Regions from separate parts of the Homo sapiens genome. Here all the other regions are linked to region 1. The links come from fine-mapping of genetic effects on gene expression. A gene starts in region 1. Each other region holds a variant in brackets. All regions are shown on one strand. Distances are between the middles of the regions. Region 1 holds the start of TNFRSF10C (TNF receptor superfamily member 10c). Region 2 overlaps PEBP4 (phosphatidylethanolamine binding protein 4). Region 3 overlaps TNFRSF10B (TNF receptor superfamily member 10b). Region 4 overlaps RHOBTB2 (Rho related BTB domain containing 2). Region 5 overlaps TNFRSF10D (TNF receptor superfamily member 10d). Region 6 has its middle 6.2 kb from the start of TNFRSF10B.

What was found.
Region 2: its variant is fine-mapped to the expression of TNFRSF10C in whole blood (INTERVAL, PIP 0.96).
Region 3: its variant is fine-mapped to the expression of TNFRSF10C in whole blood (TOPMed, PIP above 0.99).
Region 4: its variant is fine-mapped to the expression of TNFRSF10C in whole blood (INTERVAL, PIP above 0.99).
Region 5: its variant is fine-mapped to the expression of TNFRSF10C in whole blood (INTERVAL, PIP above 0.99).
Region 6: its variant is fine-mapped to the expression of TNFRSF10C in whole blood (INTERVAL, PIP above 0.99).

Annotation. Positions count from the first base shown.
Region 1 is chr8:23,100,666-23,105,737 of GRCh38, reverse strand. It overlaps TNFRSF10C (TNF receptor superfamily member 10c), which reads right to left and starts at 2,817. Exons shown (of 5, transcript NM_003841.5): 1 at 2,557-2,817. The coding sequence starts at 2,616. It overlaps LOC254896 (a long non-coding RNA gene), which reads right to left. Exons shown (of 4, transcript NR_046173.1): 3 at 5,054-5,072; 4 at 2,180-3,041. RefSeq lists an enhancer at 1,943-2,752.
Region 2 is chr8:22,886,401-22,891,472 of GRCh38, reverse strand. All of the region lies in intron 3 of PEBP4 (phosphatidylethanolamine binding protein 4), which reads left to right. It overlaps PEBP4-AS1 (PEBP4 antisense RNA 1), which reads right to left. Exons shown (of 4, transcript NR_125433.1): 3 at 4,230-5,072; 4 at 3,451-3,797. Among named protein-coding and RNA genes, the nearest start is that of PEBP4-AS1, 11 kb to the right of the region's middle. RefSeq lists an enhancer at 4,221-4,721. The variant T/G (reference allele first, on the strand shown) is at 2,272.
Region 3 is chr8:23,047,691-23,052,762 of GRCh38, reverse strand. The region is part of intron 1 of TNFRSF10B (TNF receptor superfamily member 10b); the gene reads left to right. Among named protein-coding and RNA genes, the nearest start is that of TNFRSF10B, 19 kb to the left of the region's middle. RefSeq lists an enhancer at 2,433-2,727. The variant C/A (reference allele first, on the strand shown) is at 3,086.
Region 4 is chr8:23,000,588-23,005,659 of GRCh38, reverse strand. It overlaps RHOBTB2 (Rho related BTB domain containing 2), which reads right to left. Exons shown (of 10, transcript NM_015178.3): 2 at 1,034-1,235; 3 at 185-288. The coding sequence starts at 1,225. Among named protein-coding and RNA genes, the nearest start is that of RHOBTB2-AS1, 3.3 kb to the right of the region's middle. RefSeq lists enhancers at 855-1,379, 1,380-1,905. The variant C/T (reference allele first, on the strand shown) is at 2,758.
Region 5 is chr8:23,136,163-23,141,234 of GRCh38, reverse strand. It overlaps TNFRSF10D (TNF receptor superfamily member 10d), which reads left to right. Exons shown (of 9, transcript NM_003840.5): 8 at 2,975-3,047; 9 at 3,232-5,072. The coding sequence ends at 3,365. Among named protein-coding and RNA genes, the nearest start is that of TNFRSF10D, 25 kb to the left of the region's middle. The variant T/C (reference allele first, on the strand shown) is at 2,519.
Region 6 is chr8:23,072,654-23,077,725 of GRCh38, reverse strand. It overlaps the pseudogene TNFRSF10B-AS1. Among named protein-coding and RNA genes, the nearest start is that of TNFRSF10B, 6.2 kb to the right of the region's middle. RefSeq lists an enhancer at 2,786-3,045. The variant C/T (reference allele first, on the strand shown) is at 2,228.

The sequences.
Region 1 (5,072 bases):
CCTAGAAGCTAGAGCCTCACTGCCCTGCCACTCCTGGATACACGACAGAGGACCAGAACTGGGACTGTGGCCTCTCAGTACAGCCTGGGTGAGTAGCCATCTGCAGCCACCTGGATGGAGACATTTCCTGCTCACTCTTCAAACTACAACCCGGGCCAGGCGCCTACCAGAAGGACAACTGGAAGCATGGCAGGTAAACCAGGCTGTGGCCCTGCAGTGCCATCGCTGTCCTCACTTGACGTCTGGCTCCTCTGTTCCTCCATGGCCCCTCCCCGTGGTGCTCCACCCTAGTCTTCAGAAGCTTCTGCCCCAAGCTCAGGGAGCAAGTACCAGGGTGCAGGTAGGAACAGGGGCAGCCTCTGCTGGATGGAGGACAGGTGCCTGGGGATCCAGTCCAGAGTGAGTGACACCAGCCCTGAGGATGTGATTTGTCCTCCCACACCTGGTAACACAGCCCTCTGAGGTTTACACAGGGCTGCTGAAGATTTTTACCTCCTCTTCACTTTACAGGCAGGAGCTGGGGCCACACCAGAGTCACAGAGCCAGAGGGGGAGCACGGCAGGGCCCAGCCATTCACAACCTTCAATCTCAGGAGTCCTTGACAGCCTGAGAGTCCGAGATTCTGAGCCGTTGGAACTTCTCAATTCCTACTTTGATAGAGAGAGGAATGGTGTGGAAGGACCTGGCGCACAGATTGGACCAGCCCAGCATTGACAGAGCCAGGACCTGGGGTCAGGAACTGAACTCAGCTCCAGGCTCATCTGAAGTCACCCTGACAGGCTGAGGATGGAGACCTTATCTCCATTCACAGGCATGGTGGGTGGCAGGGACTGGCCCCAACTGACCAGGGTTTTCCAAGTGCACAGCTCAGAATTCAGTCTTCCCTGCTGTCTCATCTGGATACCCTGGTCTACTCCCAGTACCAAAAAACTCCTATATCCTTGAAAATTCCTAATACCATGAGGAAACAAAAATACATAGCAATGTGATGTGTTATGTTTTACATCTTAGACTAGTAAAGAATGAAAGCTAAGTGTAGCAAAGGTGTAGGGACACAGGCACATTTGTGGACTAGGTGTGACTGTAAGCTGGGTTCAGTGGTTTTTTGGAGGAAAATTCGTGAACATTTAAAGAAACTTCTGAAGTCATTTATCCCACAGAAGGAGAAGTAGAATTCAACTTGTAAGGAGTTGCCCAATAAGCTGGTGTGCATGGATATGTGGACACACGATACATACAAGGGTATTTAGTACAATGCTGTTGGAATTAGCAAAGGCCGTCAGGATGGGATCTAACCAGCTGCCCCTAGGCGGCAACAGTGAATTAAAATGTGGCTTACCCATGCAGTAAAATACAATACCCTTGTTTAAAAGAAGATCAATCTGAATGTACTGCCATAAAACATCTAATGTGATTTGTGTTAGCTCCAAAATTTAACAAAGTGATTGTACATTTAAATGCATTTAATAAGGCAAGACTGATGGAGGGATTAAAGCCTCCTTTGGGACGCATAGAGTTCACATTCCCAAAACCGTGAAACTGATGTTGCTGGCCTTGTCTACACTGGTCATCCATGCATTCTCTCTTCAGGGCCACTGTCCTGACACAGCCATTCTTCTAGCTGCCTCAGGTAAGTCCACCCACTATAAACTATTTTAAAAGTCAGTTGTGTAATTTTTGAGAGGTGAAAATGTTACTGCTTTTCTGAATTTAGCATTAATTTGTAGAAAGACAACATGCAAACTCTCATGGTTTCTGTAACCTTGCTTTGGCCTTTTCTTTTTCTTTTTTCTTTTTTTTGTATTACATAAAGAATCTTAAAAAGGGCTGTTAGCAAAAACCTCAATCAATCTGAAAGAGACCTAGAAGTCTGCATATTTTATACATAATATGTCCTTGCACTCACACTACTACCAATCTCAGTTTCCAAAGCCAACTCACAACAACTTTACACCGTTTATGCTGAAGGAAGGGGCCAGCCCCGGTCCTGCCTATGGGATACAGAGGGGACACACGGGTGGTAGTGGAAGACATTAACCAAGGCAGCACCTTGGTTAACCGCTTCCTGCCACATTCCGGCTTCCTGCCACTTTCAGGACAGAGGAGGTGAAAGTTGCTAAAGACAGCGCTGAAAAGTTTTTTCACTGGCTGTTGGTTAAACCGATCTCCAAGGAACACGTTTAAGAATGTAAACATGGGGTTAATTTTATTAACTAATTAATTAATTAATGAGAGAGGCAACCGCTCTGTGTCTTCAGGAGGCTCACTCTATGGGTTCCACCTTGACTCCCTCCCTCTCTCGATTCTGGAACTTCCCTCCCTTCGCGGGCTCGGGGCAGCCAGGGGGACCGCCTCTCTGCTCCCTCGCGGCCGGGTCCCTCCTGCCCAGCCCGGGGACCCAGTTCTTCCCCTGACTCCGACGGCGAGTTCGTCCTGCCCGGACATGCCCGGCCGCAGGTGACCAGGGCCAGGCATCCCTGCCGTGTCCCCGTCTCCCTGCCCCCTCCCGGCGCCAGGTGCGCTCTTCCCCAGCCAGGGACCGCGGCCGGGACTCACTGGCAGCAGGACCGCGACGATGACGACGACGAACTTTAGGGTCTTGGGGATCCGGGCCATGGTATGGTTCCCGACGCCGTCCTGGGTCCTGGGTCGCACCCTGCCTCGGCCATCAGGCGGCCGGGGCGCTCTGTCCCCAGAGTTCCCTAACGGTAGGAAGCGCTCCTTCACCCCTTGCATCTCTGGTCAAACTCCCAAAAATCTATCAGAAATCGTTGGCTGAGTTCGTGCGCGTGGAGAGGTTCCCACAGCTGCACTGCCAGAATCGGAGCGCAGCGCCTCTGAATTTATACCCGCGGGGGAAAAGGCGTGGTCACTTGTCACTTGCAGCAGTCACTTCCAAGCACTCAGAAAAGGGGCATGGCCTCCCCTAGCACCTCCAGGAAGGCCTGGGTTTTGGTGGTGGGTGCATGGACGGACAGGAACTGGCTCTTTCCGGCAGCGGTGACCCAGGGCCTGCGGTTTGATTCCGGGTCCTGTCCAGGCTGTAGGCAGCAGAAGGGGAAGGAGCTGAGGCGCTGCCCACTGCGCTGCTGTAGTCTGGGTAGTGAGCTCCAGAGGAGGCACTGGAGGCCCATCCTGAGCCTGCTCCCTCCCCGGGACGCCTGTCTCTCCTCTTCTTAAACCCTGAACTACCTCCTGGCCTAAGGACTTCAGTCCACTCTTAGCTTCTGCTCCCACTCCCTCCTCCCACAGCGGCCTCACTGACCAGTGCACTGATGCCACTGATGTCTCCAGCCTCCTTGCTGCTGTGACCCAGCTCCAAGCTTCTCTGGCAGGGGCTTGGTATCCCTCAGTAGCGGGTGCCTGGCACCAAGGAGGGGCCCAGTGAACACATGAGTGGACAGAATGAAGGACACAGGGGCCATGACGGGCACATGCAGAGGCTGAGGAGTAGGTAGGAGGGAGAGGAACCCCGGGGGCATCCCTAGCCACAACCTGGCACCCTTTGCATGGTCGAGGCACAGACACTCTCTGGCCGACCTTGTGGGCTCTAGTATTGAGGCCCCATGGACAGAGGAGGCCCAGGGGAGTGGCTTCCAAAGCCTGTCCCCCAGTCAAGTGTCTATCCAGGTCCAACTATCTGACCTTGGGCTACTCACCTCCCCATTGAGTTAAGCACACTGCTGCTGTGTGGAGAGATCCAATGTGTGGTACTGAAGGGTGCCAGCCTGTGACCCTAGGCAGTAAGGTCAATGGCACAACTCCTAGACCCTTGGGGTGAGTCGGCTCCTGACCTCTCACATGGTGGATAAAAGAGGATAGCACTATAGAAACAAAGATTTTTTTTTCTGCTCATCAGAAACCTGGGAATGATATGTCATCCTCTCCACAGGCTTGGATTTGAGCAATGGAGTGCCCTGGGCACCTGCCAGGCCCCAGGCACTGAGTTCGGATCAGAAATGTGTGCCAGGTCGCAGGCACTGAGAAATGTGTGGAGTCAGGAATGTGTGCTGGGGGCAGATCTAGGCAGGAGGTGAGAGGACAGGACTTCAGGAAGACTGACAGCATTAACACAGAGCCACGAGGGCCTGCAGGAAAGTCTTTAGAGCACTCCAGGCCCCTTGGCCCTGGAGGGTGGACTACACAGTGTAGACTAGAAACCAGACTGCAGGTAACACACATTCTCTGTGCCCTGTGTGGAGCACTGCCTAGGGCTAATGGCAAAAGGCTGTGAGCACCTCCAGGGAACTGGGCCTTTAGACTATAAAGTTTCCATTTGAGAGGCACTTACTAGCTTACGATGGAACACTAGCTGAAGCTCCCCCTGTGACTGAAGGACATAAAATAATCTTGAAACCTGAAAAACTCATGATGTCTTCAGAGATCTTGGAAAAGCTCTAACGGGGAGGGCAGTCCCCGAAGAGTTCTATTACAAAATGGAAATGGTTGATACGGGATCCTGGTGCCTGAGGAAGGCAAAGAGGAGACACTCATGAGCAGGGAGCCTCTGTTCCCCACAGACTGAGTCTGGAACTGAGTGAGGAGCTGCTGGATTCTGTGGTCACTTGGACACTGCCCTATACGCAGCTCTTTACTGACCAACCAAGAGCTACTTAGTTTGTAGACAGTCATTCCTAGGTGAATGGTCAACATCCTATTTGGAAGGCCACCCCTCTGATGGAAGAAGGCAAAGGCAAATTGGCTAGGTGGGTTGGATTGCATGCTGTTTTCCTAGCGTGATGGAAGATTTGACAGCAGCAAAAGCCCCTGTACTTGAGTTGTTTTCTGGCTCATGAACAGTCCTCAACGTCTTGGTCATAGAGTTGGGAAGCAGAATGTGAAAGTTGATTGCACAAATTGGGTCATTCTTGTCACACCCAACTAAAACAGAGTCAAGAGGCCATGGGGAAGAAAAATCACTGTATTACCCCCAAACTGCAATTCTCTGTAAGCCTGGCAGCTGTAACCTGAAACTATTAATAGTCCTATCTAATATCTATGGACATAACCTGCTACTGCTCTAAGACCAGCCTGACCCACTGCAGTCACTCACCAGTCAGAGCACGCCTCTT
Region 2 (5,072 bases), 210 kb after region 1:
GGATGAATCACACCAGCCCAAGAGGCCAAAATGAACACTTCTTGGATTTGTTACTTGGGTTTCATTGGAGGGAGATGAGGATGTGGGAGACAGCAGGTGAGGTAGGACAGAGGGCAGGAGGAGCCTGGTTCCATGGCTCCCACCCCACTTTCTGCCCTGGCATCTTCCTATGTGTGAGCCACTTATACTGGCTTTGCCTTGACTGCCACATAAGCATTCATTCATTCATTCATCTGGCAAGTGCATATGGAAGAAATATATAACACAGCTGACCTTTATTGGACATCTGGTATTGTGTCAAGGTCATTATGCTGCATATGTTATCCTATTTAATAAGATGGGAAGGGCCGGGAGCAGTGGCTCACGCCTGTAATCCCAGCACTTTGGGATGCTGAGGTGGGCAGATCATGAGGTCAGGGGTTCAAGACCAGCCTGGCCAACATGGTGAAACCCCATCTCTACTAAAGATACAAACAATTAGTCGGATGTGGTGGTGCACACCTGTAATCTCAGCTACTCGCAAGGCTGAGGCAGGAGAATCACTTGAACCTGGGGAGGCAGAAGTTGCAGTGAGCTGAGATTGCTCCATTGCATTCCAGCCTGGGTGACAGGGTGAGACTCCATCTCAAATAAAAAAAAGAAAAGGGGGAAGATGTTGAGGAAAGAACTTTATTCCCAAGTTACTAGTGAGGTTCAAGAAGGTAAAGTAACTTGCCTAAGACCAAGCATGCTTGCCGGTAAAAGTCAGGACTCAAACCCATGTTGTCTAATTCCAAACTCTGTGCGCCACACTGCCTGCTACCTGCCACCTGCCAGGCGGCCTCTGAACATAGTGACCTCTAGACACACTCTGTCTGGTGGACAACACAGTGTGATGTGGCAAGTGCCACTATGAAGGTGTGCCCCACAGTGCTACTGGGGCACAGAGAGGGGAAGCTGGGAGTTTGAAAGATAGGGCTAATGATACCTTCCCCATGTAAATAATGGAGAATGGAGAATGCACCAGATTTCACCTTGGGGTCTTTCCAACGCTGAAATTTGTAAGTCTATGACTTGAGGTTGCTTATTGACATAAAGTTCCTAAAATTCTAGAGAATCGCTGCCCAAAGTGTGGTCCGTGGACCAGCAGCATCGGCATTCCCTGGCCACTTGGTAGAAATGTGCCATTGCGGGCCCCATCCAGACCTACTGAACTGATGTCTGCAGCTTAGTGAAAGTCTCAGACTCTTGAGTGTTCATTACTGCAGTTTCTCTCTTGGATGTTCTCTTGCCTTTCACCTTCAGCCCCTGGATTTCCTAGAGCGCAATTGTTGCTGAGTCCCCAGGGGAGGAAGCTACCTCTTCTCCATCACCTATCTCCTTCCAGGGCTCTCTGTCTCTGTGCCTGTTGAGAGTGGCAAGTACTGGCTCATGTTCTCCTCACTCCTATCAAGGAGCATGAGGTCTTCCAGGTAACATCTGGTGGTGCTCAGCGGCTTGCTCAGAGACCTCAATATTGCTTGGCTCAACCAAAAATAAATTGGAAAAGAAAATTGAACATTGCATCAATTTGGAGCAAGTTTATAAATTCTGCAGCTAAGCAATACCAATAGAAAATGATAGATCGCCACCGAGCAGGGCGTCCCTGCAGTGATGTATAGTCACATTAGCTGAAATACCGTATTACATGATTCTGCTTTATTACCAGTGTTGGTGGCAGACAGAAAAACAGATTACACTTGAGTTCAAATCGATAGGAACTTTATTTACCGGCCTTTTAAAAACATATTTCTGCACTTTATAAAAACATATTTCTGCACTTTATAAAAACATACGGTAGATGCTATTGATAGAGGTTGTCTGCTTGTTAAAAAGCAATTTGCCCAAAACGAGGCTTTTAAGCTGTAATTTACGGCATTACCTTTTACCTCCTTTAAGGGTTCTGTTTGCTTGGCTGTGCTTTGACGACTTCCTTAGACTTCTCTTGCCTTTAATTTTTCTCTCCCATTTACCATCTCCCTAAACTCTGAGCTCCCCGGAGCCTTAGAGCAGAAAGGAGAACAGGGTAGCATCTTCTGAAGGGGACTGGGGTCTCTCCCCAAAGCCCAGCTTCCACCTTCCTCTTCTCAGCCCCTGCATTGTTCTGGATTTTGAGGGGGCTCAGATGGCCCAGCCTCTGCCTCCTGCTGTTTCTCACTCCCATGGTCTTCTTTTCCTCCTTTTCCCAGCTCCAAAATGGGTGCTTCTCTCCCGAGCTCTGATTTCAACAAATCCTGTATGGTAGGAAAATTA[T/G]CCCCATTTTGTAGCTGTGCAAACTCAGGCTCTCAGAAGTCAAACCCAGGTCTTTTGAGTCCAAATCAAATCAAGTCATTTTCGAGGTTTGAAGATTGTGCCCGGCAGTAAGCCTGGTGCTATGGGAATGCAGAGAGCTTATGATCCACTTGAGAAGACAAAACAAACATACTTTTGAATAAACTATGAGAGGTACTTCTCAGTGGTTAAATCACATAGTGACTGAGCATATGGGAGTTTGCCGAAGCCTGGAAGGCTTCCTGGCGGAGTAAGCCTGTGGCCAGGATTAGCCCTGGGTTAGCCAGGAAAGCGGAGAGATGGGAGCTCCCAGCATGGGGAATAAGGTGTAAGAATCCTGAGCCCAGCACTTCCTGACATGGAAGAAGAGAAGGCCTGGTGGCGTGCTGGACAGAAGTGAGGAACCAGTCAGCTGGGCACAAGGGCCTGGTGGCAGAGGCCCAGAACACTGAGATTTGATGGGGACAGAAGTGAGGCATTGCAGGTTTCTGGGCACAGGAATAGCATGAAATTAATGGTTTAGGAAGATGATGTCATAGTGATGTGTGAGATTCTGGTTGGAAATCTGGGGATGCGGTACCAGTGCCCCTGAGCAAACTGGTGTGGCCCAGCCCAGGAGGGCTCCAGAAGCCTGGCCAGAGATAGGCAGAAGCCACGGCCACCTCACTTACAAGCCCCACCCTCATAGCAGGGGCCAAGACTGAGGGTTCTCCCGTGGCCGGTCCTTTTAGAACTGGATGGGTTGGGGCATCCGGTAATCCCAACACTTTGGGAGGCCGAGGTGGGCAGATCACCTGAGGTCAGGAGTTCGAGACCAGCCTGGCAAACATGCTGAAACCCCATGTCTACTAAAAATACAAAAATCAGCTGGGCTTGGTGGCACGAGCCTGTAATCCCAGCTACTCAGGAAGCTGAGGTGGGAGAATTGCTTGAACCTGGGAGGTGGAGGTTGCAGTGAGCTGCGATCATACCACTGCACTCCAGCCTGGGCAACAGAGCGAAACTGTCTCAAAAAAAAAAAAAAAAAAGAAGTGGGTGGGTTGGCCAAACATCCTAGGTTGGCCCTGCATCCAATAAGTTATGTCCTAAAGAAGATGTGTGGAGTCCCCTGCAGGCCACCACAGGGGAAGACAATTAACTGGAAATAAGTAGACAGCAATTAAAATGAGAGCACTCACTCCCTTTTTATTGTCATTGTTGTTGTTATTAAATTATTTTGAGTTAGCAGGTGTACAGATAAGGGTCACAGTGAAAAGCTAACCTCCCTCCCACTCAGTTACCTACTGAAGCAGCTCCTGTTCCCAGCGTGTGCATGCGCGCATGCGTTTGTATTCTCCAGAGACACTTCAGAGGGTTTCTTTTTAAAGACAATAAACTAAAAAGTGCTAGAGAACATCATAAAACTTCATTCGGTAAATACGTTCTTTGAGATGGTCTTGCTCTGTCACCCAGGCTGGCAAATATGATCATGGCTCACTGCAGCCTCGACTTCCTGGGCTCAAGCGATCCTCCTGCCTTTGCCTCTCTAGGAGCTGGAACTACAGGCGCACACCATCACACACGGCTGATGTTTAAAGGTTTTATAGAGATGGAGTTTTTCCATGTTGCCCAGGCTGGTCTCAACTCCTGGGCTCAAGGAATCCTCCCACCTTGGCCTCCTGAAGTGCTGGGATTACAGGCATGGACCACCACACCCAGTCTTATTTGGTAAATATTATAAAAATATACTAGGAGTGGCTGGGCACGGTGGCTCACGCCTGTAATCCCAGCACTTTGGGAGGCCGAGGTGGGCAGATCACCTGAGGACAGGAGTTTGAGACCAGCCTGGCCAACATGGTGAAACGCCATCTCTACTAAAATTACAAAAATTAACTGGGCATGGTGGCAGCCACCTGTAATCCTAGCTGCTCGGGAGGCTGAGGCAGGAGAATCGCTTGAACCCAGGAGATGCAGGTTGCAGTGAGTTGAGATCGCACCATTGCACTTCCACCTGAGCAACAAGAGCGAAACTCTGTCTCAAAAAAAAGAAAAATTATATATATAGAAATACACACACACACACACATACACACACACACACACACACACACACACTAGGAGTGTCCTCAAGGCCCAGTAACTTGGGAGGATTGAAAAAAATAAATACAAGAGATAAGGAGAAAAATAAGGAGAGATGAGTCACAATTAGACTAACAGTCCCATCCCCTCCCCTACACCCTGCAACTTTGCTTTGTGACTTGAGCAGCGTCCCACCCCACCCTGGGGTGATCCCTGGGCCTCCTCGAATCCCTCTGACCTTACCCAGGAGACCCCTGCCACAGCAGACAGTGCTGCTAACTGCTCCCTCAAACACCCACCTCTGCCCCTACCTGAGAACTCCCCAACTTCTGGGCAATGTGCCCAGTGCCAGCTGCCAGCCAGGTGGGCCACCCCATCTCAGGTCCCTGTCACTGTCCCTGTTGCTGCTGTGTGAGGAGTCGGGGCATGCCAGGTGCACCAGAGCTCTCAGTGCACCTGCTGGGCCACTGCTCTGGGGCAGCAGGATGTTTGGGGGCTACAGTCTTACCCCAAAGGGCTGCAAATGGCAGGGTCCTGCATGGCTCCAAACTGAAAGAGGTTACACCTCTCCCTGCCCCTGCATGTTGGCCTTGACCTGGACTTGACATGTGCTGAATGCTTGCTACATGATTCCATTTAACCCTTACACCTCCATGAGACAGGCATTGTTTTCAGCTGCATTTTAAAGATAAGAAAGTCTAGACTTGGGGAATTTAAGAAGCCTT
Region 3 (5,072 bases), 53 kb after region 1:
ACCTGCATAATTTAGACCAACTATTTACATTTTTGAAGATACTTTTACCAATAATCTTTAAAATTCTCCTTATTTTTATAACTTTCTGTATATCTCTCTTATTTCCTGGTTTCTTTTACCTTGTTTTATATATAACCTTTAAATAAGCTTTGAATAAGACAACAATTAGTTACCCTTGGCCAGGCGTGGTGGCTCACGCGTGTAATCCCAGCACTTTGGGAGGCTGAGGCGGGCGGATCACAAGGTCAGGAGATCAAGACCATCCTGGCTGACACGGTGAAACCCCGTCTCTACTAAAAAGTACAAAAAATTAGCCAGGCGTGGTGGTGGGCACCTGTAGTCCCACCTACTCGGGAGGCTGAGGCAGGAGAATGGTGTGAACCTGGGAGGTGGAGCTTGCAGTGAGCAGTAATTGTGCCACTGCACTCCAGCCTGGGTGACAGAGCAAGACTCTGTCTCAAAAAAAAAAAAAAAAAAGTTACCCTTTAAAAAGGACACAATCTTTAGAAAGAATGTTTTCCTACGATATATTTTTATTAGAAAATACCCAAATAATTAGATATCTGTTGTTTAATATAACTTTAGATTCTAAATTATGACAAGTTTACTTATGAGTATGTATCCCATTACATTTATCTAATTATTTATTTTAATCATTTACCCAGATTATATATGAAAACTGCGATAGTTGTCATTAAAGTTAGGAAACCACCATTGCAAAATTATGACCGAGACAGTGAAAATGATCTGACCTAACTGACTCCATCTTCCTTCTAACCTACAAGGTATTCTTGTTTATTAACTTAGTTTATAATTTAGCTTTGAAACAAATGTGATAACAGTCCTTTCCCAGAACAAACTTCCTTCATGTCTGTGGACTAGACTGCTTAAGGCCAGAAGATTAGAAGTTAGGGTATTTTGGCCAGGCACGGTGGCTCACGCCTGTAATCCTAGCACTTTGGGAGGCCGAGGTGGGCGGATCAGAAGGTCAGGAGATGGAGACCATCCTGGCTAACATGATGAAACCCCATCTCTACTAAAAATACAAAAAATAACCAGGCGCGGTGGCGGGCGACTGTAGTCCCAGCTACTCGGGAGGCTGAGGCAGGAGAATGGCGTGAACCCGGGAGGCAGAGCTTGCAGTGAGCCGAGATCGCGCCACTGCATTCCAGCCTGGGCGACAGAGCGAGACTCCATCTTAAAAAAAAAAAAAAAGAGTATTTTACTAAATAATTCAAGATGTAACTATCTTCATTAAAACAATATTAATGTTTCATTTATTTAAAAATTACACATGCAAAGATTATTCTGTTTGCACTGAATTATAGTTTTGTAGCCTCTATGCCAGATTTTGACACCTTATAATATTTGGCAGAGATAAGTATGAAATTGCTTGATCAATAAATGCAAACTAAAATGTATGCTGGAAACTCTTAAGACATTTCTAATATTACTTTACCAATAATTTTTAAAACCAGCTTACTTATTAAAGATTTTAAGTCACATAAACTTGAAAAAGCATTTGACTAGTCTTTCCTTTTTTCTGTTATTCAAGTGCTTTTTTCTTTGAGCCATTTAATTAGACCTCTTTTGTATATCTTCAGTAGTGAAACATGGTGTACACAAGACAAATACATAAGTGTATTATGCATGCCAATAGAAGTACATTTTATAGATTCGTAAGACCTCATTTTTCAGTCTCCCTCTACTGCCTAGGCCAGAGTACAGTGGCATGATCTCTGCTCACTACAACCTCTGCCTCCCAGGTAAAAGCAATTCTCGTGCCTCAGCCTCCCAAGTAGCTGGGATTACAGGTGCCTGCCACCATGCCTGGTTAATTTTTGTATTTTTCTTAGAGATGGGGTTTCACCATGTTGGCCAGGCTGGTCTCGAACTCCTGACTTCAAGTGATCAGCCCGCCTCGGCCTTCCAAAGTGCTGGGATTACAGGCATGAGACACCACGCCCGGCCTTAACTGGATGTTTGAGCTCTGGGTGGAGCCCATACTGAATCCTGGGTTTTCAAAAAGGGAGAATTATTATGAGGCTAGACCATGTGATGCTTTTACAGTGCACTTAAACAATTTTTTCCCAAAGACATTTCTAAGTGTCTAAATTACACTTTTTCTTTAAAACCCCAGAGTAGCTTCTGTTTAATAGCTATTAATGAAGAAAACAGAATTCAGTCAACTGAGAAGAAAAAAAGTTTTGCTCAAAAAGATAAGGCCCTAGGAGAGAGAGAAATAAAACCAAAAACACGAAGGCCTTTTAAAGGCCTTCACGCCCCCGTGCGCACACACACACATATGCACATACACATTTTGGATGTTAGCTTTTAATTAAGCTGACTCCCAATCATTGAGCTTCAAAAAATCTTTCTCCTTCCCAGAGGCCTCTCAGCAGAGATGGACCCAATACTTCCCATTTTCAAGTTTACATGGTATCAAAAGGAACAAGACAGACACACAAACAAATGGAAACATTTCAGAAAAACCCAAGGGGAAGTGCACTACGGCAAAACAGACTCTCAAAACTAACGCAAAACCTGATATCAACCAAAGGGAAAGTGGGTGTATGAGCCAGCCCTGTTGCTTCCCTTGGCAGTACCGGATAAATGGCTTAACCAGCCCAAATGGGAAAACAATAGGCTCCTGGCCTAAGATCCCATTGACTCACCCTTTGAGCACGTCCGCTCCTTATCTCTGTTCTTCCCCAGTAGAGAAAGGGACGTGTAGATTTGCACATAAACAGCCCTCTGGAGGGTCCCCTGGGGAAACCTCACCTGACAGCTGCTGGGATCCTCCTGAAGACTGTCTCATCGCAAGCTACCAGCCGCTGAACGCGGCACTGTCCTTATCTTCTGGCTGGCGACTTTTTTGTTCCCAGACCAAACTGAGGGTGGGGCTGCCCAATAATGAGATGCAGGTGAATCTCGCTGCCCAATAAGAAGATGCAGGTGAATCTCGCTGCCCAATAATGAGATGCAGGTGAATCTCACTGCCCAATAATGAGATGCAGGTGAACTGGGGAGGAAGAGAGTTTTTATTTCTGTAACTGGTTACAAGGAGAAGGCCTGGAAATTATCA[C/A]CAGACCAACTCAAAATTACAAAGCTTTTCAGAGTTTATATCCCTTCTAAGCTATATGCCTACATGTAAGTGTGCATTCATCTAAAGACATAAGTGATTAACTTCTTTGAATCTATAACTAAGGTCTGAGTCCTGAAGACCTTCCTCTGGAGCCTCAGTAAATTTACTTAATCTAAATGGGTCCAGGTGCTGGGGTGATTACCCTTATCTTGTCTCCTGCTAAATCATGGAGGTTTGGGGAGTTCCTTCAGCCCTCCCACACACTTGTTTTTGGAGGCCTGGGGAGTTTCTTCAGACCCCCAGTAAAACTTGTTTAATCCTAAATGAGTCCTTGTTAAGAATTTCTTCATTATTTTGTCATGCTTTAAGGCCCAGGAAAGGCCTAGGCAAAACTCTTGGTGGGGTTTTGTTACATCCCAGCCTTTATATAAGGGCACTGGCTTTTTTTAGCTTTTAATATTTAACTTAACCACTCAGTCAGTACTGACACAGTTGTGATGGAGGGCTGAGTGAAACCTGGCCTGCCACGATACTGTTTTTCCCAGTGTGTGTTTTACATTCCCACCAACAGGGCACGAAGGTTCCAGTTTCTTCACACCTCACCAGCACTTGTTATTTTCCATGCTGTTGTTTTTAATATAGTAGACGTTAGTGGTGGTGAGCATCTTTTCATGTGCTTATGGGCCATTTGCTTATCTTCTTTGGAGAAATGTCTTTCAAGTCCTTTGCCCTTTTTAAAATTTTTTAAAAATTTTTATTGTAAATTAAGAAATTACGGCCAGGCACAGTGGCTCATGCCTGTAATCTCAGCACTTTGAGAGGCTGAGGCAGGAGGACTGCTTGAGCCCAGGCGAACGTTCAAGACCAGCCTGGGCAACATGGCAACTCCCAATAAATTGTATGTATTTATGGGGATTTATAGGGTACAAAGTTATGTTATGATTTATGAATACAATATGGAATAATTAAATCAGCTAATATGTCCAACACCTCAAATACTTAACATTTTTATGGTGAGAACATTTGAAATTTATTCTTTTAGCAATTTTGAAATGTACAATATGCTGTTATTAACTACATTCATTGCACTGTGCAACAGATCTCAAAAATCTTATTCCTCCTGTCTAACCAATGGTTTGTACCTTTGATTATCATCTCCCCATTCCCCCGTGCCCAGACTCTAGTAACCACCATTCTATTCTCTGCTTCTGAGTTCAGTTGTTTTTTTTTTTTTTTTTTTGACACAAAAATTTCACTTTTGTTGCCCAGGCTGTCGTGCAATGGTGCCATCTCAGCTCACTGCAACCTCCGCCTCCCGGGTTCAAGTGATTCTCCTGCCTTAGCCTCCTGAGTAGCTGGGATTACAGATGCCCACCACCACGCCCAGCTAATTTTTGTATTTTTAATAGAAACAGGGTTTCACCATGTTGGCCAGGCTGGTCTCGAACTCCTGACCTCAGGTGATCCACACCCTACCTTGGCCTCCCAAAGTGCTGGGATTCAGGCATGAGCCACCGTGCCCAGCCTCGTTGTTTTCAATTTCATGTATGAAAACATACAGTATTTCTCTTTTTGTGCCTCACTTATTTCACTTAGCATGATGTATTCCAATTCCATCCATGTTGTTTCAAGTGACAAAATTTCTATCTTTTTAAAGGCTGAATAGTATTCTGTATTGTCTACATACCACATTTTCTTTATCCATTTATCTGTTGGTGGACACAGGTTGATTGCATAACTTGGCTGTTGTAAATAGAGCTGCAATGAACATGGAAGTGCAGATATCTCCTTGATATACTGATTTCAAATCTTTTTGGTAAATACCCAGAAGTGGGATTGCTGGAGCATATAATAATTCTATTTTTAGTTTTTTGAGGAAGCTCCATACTGCCTTCTGTAATGGCTGTACTAATTTACATTCCCACCAACAGTAAGCAAGGGTTCCCTTTTCTCCATATCCTCACCAACACTTGTTATCGTGCATCTT
Region 4 (5,072 bases), 100 kb after region 1:
CTGATCCCGGACCCAGGCTCCCTTCACTGCACCAGGCTGCCCCAGCCCCCATGAGGCTCTGCCAGAGCTGTTTTCTCCACTTCTTCTTGCCAGCTGAAATTTCACAGAGGTGCTTTGTTCCTGGGAAAAGCAGGGAAAAACCCACCCTGTTGGTTCTCTGCAGGCGGCTAGAGGCCTTCCCTACCTCCCATAAGCAAAGCGACGGTCTTTGTGGTGGTCTCCAAAGGTGTCCCAGAGGCGCAGAGAGACGCTGACATCATCTACCACGTCTCGGGAGCGTTCCAGCACCTGGGGACGGGGAGGAAGAGTGGGACTCGAAGGCAGCAGTTTTGGGGACCTCTGCGTGCCACCTCAGGATAAGCGCCGGCTGACACCTGGGGGCCCCAGACATCACTGGGCATGGAGGGACAAGGCTGGCATCGCCCACTGTGCACCCTGCACAACTTTCATCCACGTAAAATCTCTGTAGAATCTATAACAAGGGTGGCCTCCAAGCTGACCAGGAGTGGAAGAGACCCTAAGCAGGTGGAAGAGACACTAAGAGGGTAGCAGAGACCCTAAGGGGGTGGAAGAGACCCTAAGGGACTGCTATGGGTGTGGAAGGGGCCTCTTTGGGAGCTGACCCTTGTTCCTGGCTTTCCTTGCAAACTGCATGTTTGTGAGCCTCTGGTCTTTTGCTATCAGCTGCCAGCTTCTTTGCTCCTCTCAGCTTGTATCTCTTCCAAGCCCCAGCCCTCCAGTGCTCCCCATTACTTAAGGCTGTGACTACATACAATGCGGTACCCCAGACAAAGATGGAGTCCCAGGCACCAGCTCAGTCCCTGAAAACACAACCAGCCAGAGACACTTCCCTGGGGCAGACTTGGCTTAAACCTCTCTCCAGGGGCTCCTTCCTCTTCAGCTGCCCCCAACCCATCCTGTCCCACCCCTAGAGGGCTCCCGTGAGCTCTGGAGACACCAAGCTATGCCTCAGGAAGCCCCCAAGCCCAGACTCATGGCGTGGACCCCCAGCCAGGTAGTCCTGCAGCCTTACCTCCTGGCACACACGATATTGGTCGATGGCCCATACTGTGGGCACATGCGTGGCCAGCAGCTGGTACTGGGTGAGGGTGGCATTGCAAGCGCGGGCACAGATGAGCCTGGTCTTACCCACGGCGTTGTCCCCCACCACAACGCACTTGATGGTCTCTACGTTTGGCCTTTCATAATCCATGTCAGAATCCATTAAACGGGACCTGAGGGAGAGGAGGGAGGCGGTCAGGACGGCATGGCATGCCAGCTCGCCGTGGGCCAGGGCCAGCACCCGCAGCTCTCCTCAGCCAGGCTGCCCCCTCTGCAAGCCCCGGAGCTGACAGGAGGAGGAAGGAGTGGGCAACGTTCTGGGCAAGAGCTCTGCGAGGGTCCAAGGGGCCAGGAGCCCATTCAGGCTGAGAGGAGCAGTGTCACCAGATGGGCCACCTGTCCCCTTCCTGCTCCCACGATCCTCCAGCTGTGCGTCTGGATGAAGGAGACCTACGCGAGATCACCAGTGGAGCTTGCCGAGGCCCTGCCCTGTCCCCTCTCCAGAGAGGGCAGCTCACTCATCTGCTCTCCTCCTCCTTCCCCGGCAGAGCAGTGGCAGCAGAACAACAAACAGCTGAGAGAAGCAGAGTCGGCCACGTCCCCACCCCTTCCCAGCATGCCTGAGGGCAGGGCACTTTAAAATTTAATGGACTTGTCAGAACTGGGCAGCAGCTCTCCTGGCCTCCACTCTTTCCCTTGCCCTCTCTGGTGGTGGTGGATTTCCAAGCCCTAGCCTGCCTAAGTGCATGCTTCAACCCCAGACCCCAGTCCCCTTTATGGAGATGCAAGAGTTTTTCCTCCCAGCCTCTCTAGGATGGGGAGGTTCCTGGATGCACCTGACCAGCCCAGGGGCCTCCCTTTCTCTATTCGGGGTCTGTCCTGTTGCCCATGTGTCATGCTCAGCTACAGGTCCAGCTTTCAGATGCGGGTGAGGGGAACCACAGGCCTATGATGATACAGTCAGTGGCCAATGGGCCTCTACTTCCCCTACGGGGGGCTGTCCTCCCAGCACCCTGCCCCCAGCGTCAGAGAGTGAGATCCACCTCCACCCTCTTCTGCCCTTCCCATTCCTAGGGAGGATGATCCTCAGGCTGAAGATCCCAGGCAGCTGGCACTCCTAGGTGATGTTCACTAAACTGGCTACATGGGCGATGGGATTGCCAGAAAGCAAAAGATCAGAAATTTGAGCCTGAATTTCTGGGCAAATGCTTGCCTCAGTTGCCTTCGATGTTGAGCAGAGAGGAAGTGGCTTGTCCACCCCCAGAGAGGGATGGCTTGAATGAACAAACAGAAGGCACTTCTGTAGTCAGATGTCATGTTCGTGTTTAAAAATCTGTCGCCAGGAGGCCCTGGCCTCGGCATCCACCCTCCTGGGATTAGGGAGCAGGGGCAGGGCCAGCGTGATTAGGACGCTTGGTTTCGCCAGCGTCATCTGCCCGCCCCACTCACATTCCTGTGTGTATGAAAGTCGTCTGGGGGGGCTTTAGCAGCCCGGAGTCATCCCTCCTAGGCTAAGGAAGGCTGAGCTCTGAGTGCTGGAGGCTGCCCAGGCACCCTGGCTGCTGAGCCATCCAGCCCAGAGCCAGGCCACCAGCAACAACAGGGAGGCTCCATTCCTGCTGGGCTGTAACTGGATGCCAGCATGCAGGGATGCAGACCGAAATATCCAAGTAACGATAGCAACTGGGATCCGTG[C/T]GAGTGGATGCATCTCAGCAACCTAAGCAAAAAGTGCAGCAAGGACTTCTCAATGAGACAACCTCCTCCGCCTTTTTGGAATGTTACAGGATCTGGACCCTTCAACGAGGTCTCCATGCAGTGCCCTCATGGTCTCCAGGGCAACTGTACCACCCCTTCTCTCTCCTAACCCTCCCTCAGCAGACAACCGTTTTTTGTTTTTGTATTTTTTTGAGACGGAGTTTTGCGCTTGACACCCAGGCTGGAGTGCAGTGGCATGATCTCGGCTCACTGCAGCCTCTGCCTCCTGGGTTCAAGTGATTCTCCTGCCTCAGCCTCCCAGGTAGCTGGGATTACAGGTGTGTGCCACTATGCCGGCTAATTTTGTATTTTTAGTAGATACGGGGTTTCGCCATGTTGGTCAGGCTGGTCTTAAACTCCTGACCTCAAGTGATCTGCCCGCCTTGGCCTCCCAAAGTGCTGGGATTACAGGCGTGAGCCACCACACCTGGCCCAGAGAACTGTTAAGAACTGTTATTCTAACCACAGGCTTCCTCCTCCCAATTCTCTCTCCTGAACTGAGGACCGGGAACCCCACTTTGACAGTTCCTGATCTCAAGTTGAGGAATGTGCTGGCGCCAGGAGGCAGCATCTGGGCTGTGGTTTCTGTTTTGTCGAGTGAATACCAAAACAGATATAATCCCAAATACAAAATATGTGCAGCTGGAGGATAAAGATTAAAACCCAAGAGCCAAAAGAACTTCTTTCTCAAGTTCCGATTCTCCCAGCATGTAGGTCTGTAGACAGAAGCGGGGGAATGAGGAGGCCTAATGGAGGGATGCCAGTTCTCAAATTCAGGAGCACCTTGACAGTGAGAATAATGCCAGAACACCAGCAGAGCAGTGCTGGGCCAAGTTCAGCTACTTTGTGATGAAAACACTGCTGCCCACCTGTGCTATGTCACCTCTAGAGTTAAGCAGTGGTCAGCCAATCAACAAGTGGAAATTGACAAATACTGTGCCATGAGTTTAGACATCAGACCTTCTGGGTTGCGCAACCCCTTCCATCCATTCCCCAGCCCCTTCAGCAGTCCCCTTGTCCTTCAGCTGCCTCTCTGTTTGTATCATCTCACCCTTTCTACCCTGTCCCAACTGCCTGACTGGCAAACTTCACTGTCCTATCTAGGAAGAGGCAAGTCACTTATATTTTCTGGGCATCAGTCTCCCCCTCTGGGAAATGGGTATGAAGACATTGGAAGAGTCTCCTGAACCGTGGTTAATTTGTGCCAAGAGAGGCTGGGCTGAAAGGAGGTATTTGTCTTCTTATGTAATGTGGTATTATATAATGCTAGATTGCATATCTATATGTGTAATTATATCTGTCTTTAAGATACAGACTGGCCCAATTCAAGTGTTAGAACTCTTAGTCTAATCAGGCCTGTCTTAAAGGAGGATCCTGTCCTGGAGAGAGTGTGCCAAGAGTAATATAATTTTTGCCCTAGGATGTTGCTGATGTTGTATCATTGCTGATGTATGGTGATACAGCCCACTCATTGCTGATATATGGTGATACAGCCCATTCAGTGAGCCTCTCAGCTTCCCCTCTCCCTCCGGCTCTCTCTTCTTCCCTGACTCCAGACTCTCCCTCACAATTGCCTCATCCCCACTCAATCAACCTCCATAAACTATGACCTCCTCACCACCCAGCCCTGGGCATCACAACCCCCAACTCACTCCTCTTCCATGACAATCGCAAAGTCACTGGCATGTGTTCCTTCCATCCCTGTCCCATGATCCCTGTGCCCCTCCAAAAACAGCCTCCTGCCCACCGCTCTCCCAGCTCTTTGTACTTGGTGCAAGCCAAAACCCAAGGTGTGCTGAAATTAGCTACAAACCTCGTGCTCTCCCAGTCCCACCCCCACACCCCTACACACACTCTTTGCAGAGCTCAGAAAGGGCCCCTTTCCCTCCCACAGCTGATAGGAGGCTTGTTCATCTGTGGCTGCCCTAGTCTGGTTGTCAAGGAAACAACAGAATCTCCCTGGGAGCCTGGCTTGTCTCCTAGCAACCAGTATCCCACATCATCTTACAAAATGGGAATGGGAGGAAAATCCTGAAAATGAAGGTAAAATCAAGGGAGATGGATTGAATGGAGAATTGGAAGGAGAAGAACAAAGAGAGAGTGGACTCCTAATTCGGGGAGGCTCCCACGGGGGTCGCTGGCATTGCAAGAAGCCCCGTGCAGATCCAACAGAAAGCAAGGCCCAAAGGGACCCTGAATGGTCAGATTAAAGAAATGCAAGCCTAAACACAGATAAGCCCCCTCAAACCTAAAAT
Region 5 (5,072 bases), 35 kb before region 1:
CCACACCCGGCCTGTGGAGAGTTTCTTCTGCTGTGCAGAAGGTCTTTAGTTCAATTAGATGCCACTTGACAATTTTTGTTTTTATTGCATTGCTTTTGAGGACTTAATCATAAATTCTTTGCCATGGCTGATGTCCAGAGGGGTGTTTTCTAGGTTTTCTTCTAGAATTCTTATAGTTCATGGTCTTACCTTTAAACTTTTAATCTACCTTGAGTTAATTTGTGTATATGGTGAAAAGTAGGGGTCTAGTTTTCGTTGTTCTGCATATGGCTAGCCAAATATCCGAAGCATCAGCTGTTGAATGGGGAGTTGTATTATTCCATTTTCATACTGCTATGAAGAAATACTTGAGACTGGGTAATTTATAAAGAAAAAGAGGTTTAATGGACTCACAGTTCCACATGGCTGGGGAGGCCTCACAATCATGGCCTGAGGTGAAAGATGAGCAAAGGCACATCTTACATGGCGACAGGCAAGAGAGCGTGTGCAGGGGACTGCTCTTTATAAAACCATCAGCTCTTGTGAGTCTTATTCACTATCACAAGAACAGAACTGGAAAAACCAGTCCACGTGATTCAGTTACTTCCAATAATTTTTTCCAATTCTGTGGAAAATGACATTGGTAATTTGATAGGAGTAGTATTAAATCTGTAGATTGATTTCAGCAGTATGCCCATTTTAGCCATATTAATTCTTCCAATCCATGAGCATGGAATGTTTTTCCATTTGTTCATGTTATCTATGATTTCTTTTAGCAGTGTTTTGTAATTCTCTTAGAGATCTTTCACATCCTTGGGTAGAGGTATTTCTAGGTATTGTGTGTGTGTGTGTGTGTGTGTGTGTGTGTGTGTGTGTGTGTCTGTTGTAAATGGGATTGTGTTATTGATTTGGTCCTCAGCCTGAACATTATTGGTATATAGATATGCTACTGATTTTTTTTCTTTTTGAGACAGAGTCTTGCTCTGTCACCCAGGCTGGAGTGCAGTGGCGCGATCTCAGCTCACTGCAAGCTCCACCTCCCAGGTTCACGCCATTCTCCTGCCTCAGCCTCCCCAGCAGCTGGGATTACAGGCGCACACTGCCACGCCTGGTTAGTTTTTTGTATTTTTAGTAGAGGTGGGGTTTCACCGTGTTAGCCAGGATGGTCTCGATCTCCTGACCTTGTGATCCGCCCTCCTTGGCCTCCCAAAGTGCTGAGATTACAGGCGTGAGCCACCGTACCCAGCTACGCCCCGTTAATTTTTGTATTCTTTAGTAGAGACGGGGTTTCACCATGTTGGTCGTGCTGGTCTTGAACTCTTGACATCGTGATCCGCCTGCCTCGGCCTCCCAAAGTGCTGGGATTACAGGTGTGAGCCACGGTGCCCGGTGCTACTGATTTTTATACATTGATTTTGTATCCTGAAATTTTGCTGAAGTCGTTTATTAGTTCCAGGGGCCTTTTGGTGGAGTATTTAGGGTTTCCAAGGTATAGAATCATATCGTCCATGAAGAGTTTTCACTTCTTCATTTCATATCTGGATGCCTTTTCTTTCTTTCTCTTGCCTGAGTGCTCTGACTAGGACTTCCAGTACTATGTTGAATGGGAGTGGTGAGCGTGAGCATCCTTGCCTTGTTCCAGTTCTCAAGGGGAATGCTTCCAGCTTTGGCCCATTCAGTATGATGTTGGCTGTGGGTTTGTCATAGATGGCTCTTACCATTTTGAGGCATGTTCCAATGGGAACTTTCTAATGTTTTTTAACATCCAAAAGAGCAAACACCTCTTCCATACTTTTTCAAAATGTATTATTTTACCCAGATAAAATTTAGAATTAAAAGATTTCCTCCATCCTTCCCTCCCGAAAAACCTCAGTTGCCGTTTTATCAATTCGCTTTAAAATTAAAAATTAATCTAGAAACACTGAATATTTTATTAATATTCAGTATTTCCTTATCAAAGGAGATAACATTTGGTGTCAAGTATTTTATTGTAACTGAGTTGTGATTTGTGTTCCTCTTCAAATAAATTATTCCTGTTTCTTATGGCTGTTTAGTATTTTGTATCCATTATGAGTTGGATAACCTTGTAATTCTGTTTGCTAATTTATTGCATTTGCTATGTTTTTAACATTCCTCCAGACATACATTTCTATTTCAATATTGTAGTTTCATCTTAGGGGTTTTAAATGACGTTGAAAATAATGATTATTGTGTCTGCCCTCTTCCAAAAGTCTTGCCTCATTTTAATTTTCCATCTTGTTGCCTAGGCCAGACCTTTCAGAACAATATTCAGCTGTGCTTAGGGAAGGCAGGTGTTTGGGTCCTGATTTGATTTCTGGGGAAGGCCTCCAAAGTGTCACTCTTAGCAATGGCATTCACTTTTGGTTTCATATAGAAATTCTCATCATCAAGAACACAGCTTACTATTCTAAAAGGGTTTGAAAAAAATCAGAATTGCTGTTTAATTTTACCAAATGTCTTTCCAGCCTCCATAGAGACTGCCATTTTATTTAATTACGCTATTGATATGGTAGAGTAC[T/C]GATGATCAAAGATCATTTACAGTCTTGGGATAAATCATTTTGTTAGGTTTTCCTGGGTGCTCTCATATATAGTCTGCCGAGACTCTGCTGGTAAGAATTCTGGAAGGAAGTGATCATTTCTTGTGAGGGTGGGTGGGAGTTGATTAGATGGGGCAGAAGGGGACTTTCTGGGGTGTGGCAGTTTCTATGTCTTGATCAGGGGATAATTACACAGGCCTATAGTCAAAGTTGGTCAGAACACTTACAAAGTGAGCATTTACTGCATGTCACTTATGTCTCAATGAGCCACCAGCACACAGAGCCCAAGAGCTATGGAGGACCAGAGGTTTGTCTCCATCTCCATGGAGACCCAAGAGGGAAAGCGCTGCAGGTCTCTTGCTGGCTAGTGGTCAGGGTCAGTACTAGACTGCAGGACTCCTGACTCTGACCAGAGCATTCCCCACTGTGTGTTACAGGAACAGGCAGAAGCTGAAGGGTGTCAGAGGAGGAGGCTGCTGGTTCCAGTGAATGACGCTGACTCCGCTGACAGTAAGTGTTTTGTGCCTTGAGACGCAGCAGGAGGACAGGGAATAGGGACGGTGTCCTAACTGCTGTCCCTATAGCTGAGAGGGCTCTTCTGGAGGTTTCACTGCTGGAAGCAGGGGGCCCCATGTCGATCCTGTGCTGATCGTCCTTGGAGCATTGAGACCCTAAATCTCTTCTCTCTTCTCAGTCAGCACCTTGCTGGATGCCTCGGCAACACTGGAAGAAGGACATGCAAAGGAAACAATTCAGGACCAACTGGTGGGCTCCGAAAAGCTCTTTTATGAAGAAGATGAGGCAGGCTCTGCTACGTCCTGCCTGTGAAAGAATCTCTTCAGGAAACCAGAGCTTCCCTCATTTACCTTTTCTCCTACAAAGGGAAGCAGCCTGGAAGAAACAGTCCAGTACTTGACCCATGCCCCAACAAACTCTACTATCCAATATGGGGCAGCTTACCAATGGTCCTAGAACTTTGTTAACGCACTTGGAGTAATTTTTATGAAATACTGCGTGTGATAAGCAAACGGGAGAAATTTATATCAGATTCTTGGCTGCATAGTTATACGATTGTGTATTAAGGGTCGTTTTAGGCCACATGCGGTGGCTCATGCCTGTAATCCCAGCACTTTGATAGGCTGAGGCAGGTGGATTGCTTGAGCTCGGGAGTTTGAGACCAGCCTCATCAACACAGTGAAACTCCATCTCAATTTAAAAAGAAAAAAAGTGGTTTTAGGATGTCATTCTTTGCAGTTCTTCATCATGAGACAAGTCTTTTTTTCTGCTTCTTATATTGCAAGCTCCATCTCTACTGGTGTGTGCATTTAATGACATCTAACTACAGATGCCGCACAGCCACAATGCTTTGCCTTATAGTTTTTTAACTTTAGAACGGGATTATCTTGTTATTACCTGTATTTTCAGTTTCGGATATTTTTGACTTAATGATGAGATTATCAAGACGTAGCCCTATGCTAAGTCATGAGCATATGGACTTACGAGGGTTCGACTTAGAGTTTTGAGCTTTAAGATAGGATTATTGGGGCTTACCCCCACCTTAATTAGAGAAACATTTATATTGCTTACTACTGTAGGCTGTACATCTCTTTTCCGATTTTTGTATAATGATGTAAACATGGAAAAACTTTAGGAAATGCACTTATTAGGCTGTTTACATGGGTTGCCTGGATACAAATCAGCAGTCAAAAATGACTAAAAATATAACTAGTGACGGAGGGAGAAATCCTCCCTCTGTGGGAGGCACTTACTGCATTCCAGTTCTCCCTCCTGCGCCCTGAGACTGGACCAGGGTTTGATGGCTGGCAGCTTCTCAAGGGGCAGCTTGTCTTACTTGTTAATTTTAGAGGTATATAGCCATATTTATTTATAAATAAATATTTATTTATTTATTTATAAGTAGATGTTTACATATGCCCAGGATTTTGAAGAGCCTGGTATCTTTGGGAAGCCATGTGTCTGGTTTGTCGTGCTGGGACAGTCATGGGACTGCATCTTCCGACTTGTCCACAGCAGATGAGGACAGTGAGAATTAAGTTAGATCCGAGACTGCGAAGAGCTTCTCTTTCAAGCGCCATTACAGTTGAACGTTAGTGAATCTTGAGCCTCATTTGGGCTCAGGGCAGAGCAGGTGTTTATCTGCCCCGGCATCTGCCATGGCATCAAGAGGGAAGAGTGGACGGTGCTTGGGAATGGTGTGAAATGGTTGCCGACTCAGGCATGGATGGGCCCCTCTCGCTTCTGGTGGTCTGTGAACTGAGTCCCTGGGATGCCTTTTAGGGCAGAGATTCCTGAGCTGCGTTTTAGGGTACAGATTCCCTGTTTGAGGAGCTTGGCCCCTCTGTAAGCATCTGACTCATCTCAGAGATATCAATTCTTAAACACTGTGACAACAGGATCTAAAATGGCTGACACATTTGTCCTTGTGTCACGTTCCATTATTTTATTTAAAAACCTCAGTAATCGTTTTAGCTTCTTTCCAGCAAACTCTTCTCCACAGTAGCCCAGTCGTGGTAG
Region 6 (5,072 bases), 28 kb after region 1:
CTTTTAGGATTCCATTTTAATTGGATACTGCCTTTCCTTTCTTTTTTTTTTTTTTTTTTTTTTTTTTTTTTTGAGAAGGAGTCTCTCTCTGTTGCCCAGGCTGGAGTGCAGTGGCGCGATCTCGGCTCACTGCAAGCTCCGCCTCCCAAGTTCACGCCATTCTCCTGCCTCAGCCTCCCCAGCAGCTGGAAATACAATTGCCCGCCACCAGCCTGGCTAATTTTTTGTATTTTTAGTAGAGATGGGGTTTCACCGTGTTAGCCAGGATGGTCTCGATCTCCTGACCTCGTGATCTGCCCTCCTCAGCCTCCCAAAGTGCTGGGATTACAGGCGTGAGCCACCGCAACCGGCTTATTTTATTTTATTTTATTTTCTTGAGACGGAGTCTCGCTCTGTTACCAGGCTGGAGTGCAGTAGCATGATCTCGGCTCACTGCAACCGCCGCCTCCAGGGTTCAAGTGATTCTCCTACCTCAGCCTCCCAAGTAGCTGGGACTACAGGCTTGTGCCACCACACCCAGCTAATTTTTTGTATTTTTAGTAGATGGGGTTTCACCATGTTGGCCAGGATAGTCTTGATCTCTTGACCTCGTGATCCACCCACCTCAGCCTTCTAAAGTGCTGGGATTACAGGCGTGAGTTACTGCACCCAACTGGATACTGACTTTTAATGTATACATATTTCCTGATCTATGTGCAAGTGCTATAGGGAATACAGTATACACTCAAGTGTTTGTATTCTATTTGAAGTTTTTTAAAAAATGAATTTATTGGCTGGGCTCGGTGGCTCATGCCTGTAATCCCAGCACTTTGGGAGGCTGAGGCGGGCAGATCACGAGGTCAGGAGATCCAGACCATCCTGGCTAACCTGATGAAACCCCGTCTCTACTAAAAATACAAAAAAAAAAAAAATGCCGGGCATGGTGGCGGGCGCCTGTAGTCCAGCTACTCAGGAGGGTGAGGCAGGAAAATGGCATGAACCCAGGAGGCGGAGCTTGCAGTGAGCCGAGATCGCGCCACTGCACTCCAGCCTGGGCGACAGAGTGAGACTCCATCTCAAACAAAAAAAAAAAAAAAGAATTTATTGAGGTATAATGAATATAAAACAAAGTGTACATTTTTAAAATGTGTAGTTTGGTAGATTGAGATGTATGTATACACTACGAAACTATCACCACAATAAGATAATGACATGTCTACCACCCCCCAGAATGTGTTCATTCTTCAGTGTAATCCTCTCTTCTGCTTTGCTCCTATGTCCCCAGCAATGATTCTTCTGCTTTTTGTCACAATAGATTAGATTAGTTGCATTTTAATAAGAAGTGGAATCAGACGGTATGCATTCTGCTTGGATTCCTTCACATGACATGATCATTTTGAAAACCATCCCTGTGGCCATGTGCAGTAATACTGCCTTTTCATGGCTGAGTTGTGTTGCTGAATTAATTGTGTGATATTAATGTAAAGTGTAAGAGACTCGCAACAAGATGTGTCCATTCATCACCACCCAGTATTCCTAAGCCTTAACTATGCATACTTTACGAACCTCACAGCAATGTTATCATCATTGATAATACATATTTTCAAGAAACTAAGAAGAAGTAATAATCCTTTACATTTTCCCCAACTTTATATTTCTGGTGACCTTCCTTTCTTCCTTAAGATCCAGGTTTCCATTTGGTGTCAGATCTCTTCTGCCTGAAGCATTTTGTGTCCTGCAGGTCTACTAGCAATGAAGTGTCCGTGGCGTCTCCAAAATCATATTCACATTGCTAATTCTTAAAGCCACTTTATGCCCATTTGCTCCTTCTTATTTGGTAATGATCTCAGCCAAATATCAGATTATGAAAACCAGAATCCACCTTGAACTTCTTTCCTCTTCTTACCAAACCTATTGCATCACCGGCCTGCATTATCATCATCATTTCCCTCAGATCCGCCTCAGCTGCCACTTGCCTCCTTCAGGATAATGCAACCTGACCCTCACCCTAACCACTAGGACCCATCCCAAATGCTGCCCAGGCCATGTCTGAGGTCACCCACCTAATCCACTCTGCATTGGGCAAACAATGATCTCTGAAGTGCTGATCTGATGGGCGATGTCTCCGGTGAAAACTTGACAATGGTCCTGGTGACTCAGGATGTGGGTGATCCTCTGCATGCTATTCAGATCCTCTGTTCTGTCCTCAGCCTGCCTGCCACACTCCCCACCTCTCACGTTTAACACA[C/T]TCTATGAGCAGGCTGAGAACGCAACATCTGCATTAGTGCAGCTTCCTAGAATCCACGTTACTCATTCATTCACTCATGGAAGAAATATAGGCGTCTGGCGACCACACATACAAGGAGCCGTGGAGTATCGGGAACACAGCATGGCCCTTCCTTTCCTTAGCACAGTTTCCATTCACAGGAGCTGAGGCACAGCCATCATTAACCCCAAAGTCCATGAACTTGTGAAGAGTCTGGAGGGGCTGCTCAGGCAGAGGTGACAAGTACCATAAGTGGCAGAGACATTAGTGGACATAGAGGGGAAAGTCCACACAGACAGAATCCCAGACAAATAGTAAGTCAAAGTAATGGGGGAGGGGAGTAAAAACAAGTGAGGTTGGGACGAGGCTGTGCAGGATGCGGGCCTCTGATTGAGGGAGAAGGGGTGTGTGGCCAGAGATGTGTGGCTGTGTCAGTCCATAGAATTTTGTCAGACTTGAACTTTTCCTGGTGTGTGTGAGTGAGTGTGTGTGTGTGAGAGAGAGAGAGAGAGAGAGAGCGCAGCATGCCAGAGGCATGGTGGAGAGAGAAGGAGAATGAGAAGGGAGGAGGGTGGAGGCTTGCTCAGGTCCTCTCCTGCAAGGCTCTGCAGATCCAGGCTTCTCCCCAGATGAGTCATTAACTGGGGGTTTCCTGGTCATGCACATCCCCCACTGGTGATGCAATAGGTAGGTGGTTGCAAAGCCCAGTGTGGCCCTCACCCTCCCTCAAGCCAAGCAGGCTCCTCTTTCCTCTGCAGGGCACACACACCCTTAAAGCTGCCAGTTGACCCTGAACTGAGCAATCACTCAGAAGACCAGACATCAACTCAGACTTGTTCTCTCAGTCTGTGGCCTGGGATCTACTTCTGAGTTTTGTGGAGTTTCTTTTTATCCCTGTACAAGACCAGGGCCAGCCACTAAAGAGCTGCAGGAGTCCGGGGAAGTCACTTCCCTTCCTCTCTAAACTTCACGTTTCTCTCTCCTGAAAACAGGAAGTGGCATTAAATGAGCTCTCAGAGGCCTCCCAGCAGTGACCCAGAATGAGGTGAGCAGCAAATTCTCCCTTGGGAAAGGCAGCAGAAGCCAGTTGGGCAGTGGGTGCTGCTCCCCTGAGGTTGGCTCACCCATCCCCCAGCCCCCCACCCCAGGAATAGCTGTGTGACCTTCAGCAAGTTACTGAGTTGATCTGTGTCTCACGTAAGAGAACCAACTTAATTATAGTTCCGGCACAGTCAGGTTGCTGTCAGAATTAAATGTGTGAATTTGTATGAAGGGATCTGAATAGAGCCTGACTTATGGGAAGTGCTGTATTTCAGCGCACACTCTGAATAGCATAATCATTACTAAAAGAATTTTTTTTTTGAGACGGGGTCTCACTCTGTCTCCCAGGCTGGAGTGCGGTGGTGTGAACACGGCTCACTACAGCCTCAACCTTCCAGGCTCAGGTGATCCTCCCACATCAGCCTCCTAAACAGCTGGGACTACAGGTGCAGGCCACTGCACCAGGCTAATTTTCTGTGGGTTTTGTTGTTGTTATTGTTTGTAGAGATGGGTTTTGCTATGTTTCCCAGGCTGGTCTTGAACTCCTGGGCTCAAGTGATCTGCCCGCCTTGGCAGGACTACAGGTGTGAGCCATTGCACCCTGCCTACCCTGGCCCATTGACTATTATGAATTAAAGGCTATTGAAAAACAGCAGGTGCATCGCTGGCAAAAGTATACTTGTGTAACGAACTTGCACATTCTGCGCATGTATTTCAGAACTTAAAGTAAAAATAAAATAATAAAGTAGGCCGGGCGTGGTGGCTCACGCCTGTAATCCCAGCACTTTGGGAGGCCGAGGCAGGTGGATCACAAGGTCAGGAGATAGAGACCAGCCTGGCTAACATGGTGAAACCCTGTCTCTACTAAAAATACAAAATTTAGCCGGGTGTGGTGGCGGGCACCTGTAGTCCCAGCTACTTGGGAGGCTGAGGCAGGAGAATGGCGTGAACCCAGGAGGCGGAGCTTGCAGTGAGCTAAGATCATGCCACTGCACTCCAGACTGGGCGACACAGCAAGACTCTGTCTCCAAAAAATTAAAAAAAAAATAATAAAGTATTCAGGGATAAAGAGAGAAAAATAAATTTAGATTGTATACATATGTAAAATATATTTTAAAAGGTAAGCTTGTCTTTTTTATTCCTTAAAGGAGCAGATATTAAAAAAAAAAGAATAGAATAACTCATCTTTTTAGCCTCCACATATTTACTTGCTTCTTCCCAAGTTACTTGGTCTAATTCAGTATATAAGTAACTGACTCTCACTGCTTTTTCTGTGCCATGTAAAACTTGCATTGTATTAATTTGTGTGCTTTTCTCCTGTGGACCTGTCTTATGTCAACTTAATTCTCAGGCCCAGCCAAAAAAAAAATACCCTTAAAGGGAGCTTAGCTTGCCTCCATGACCCTCAATGGTGGCTGTAATCAAACCACATCTTCCAGGCAAACAATACCACATCCTATGGCCTTGCAATGGCATGGCCTCCCTCCAGCACAGCCTCTCTGGAGGAGGGGGAGGCAAGGGTGGTGAGATCTCAGGCCTCCCTCATGCTACCTCCTATTAGTTATATGACCCCTGGTGTCACCTCTCCCACCACACTGTAGGCTCCAGGGAGTAGGATTCACATGGGGTTCATTTGTCCTCCCTGCCTTCAGCAGACTCCAGGCACAGGTGTTCCCAGAGTAAAGGGCTCACTGTCTGCTTCCTGGGTGAATCATTCTCCCCGCAAACCCATGAGGTGAGTGCAGTCGTGGCTTCAGCTCACCGCCTGACAGGCTCCAGGCTGTAG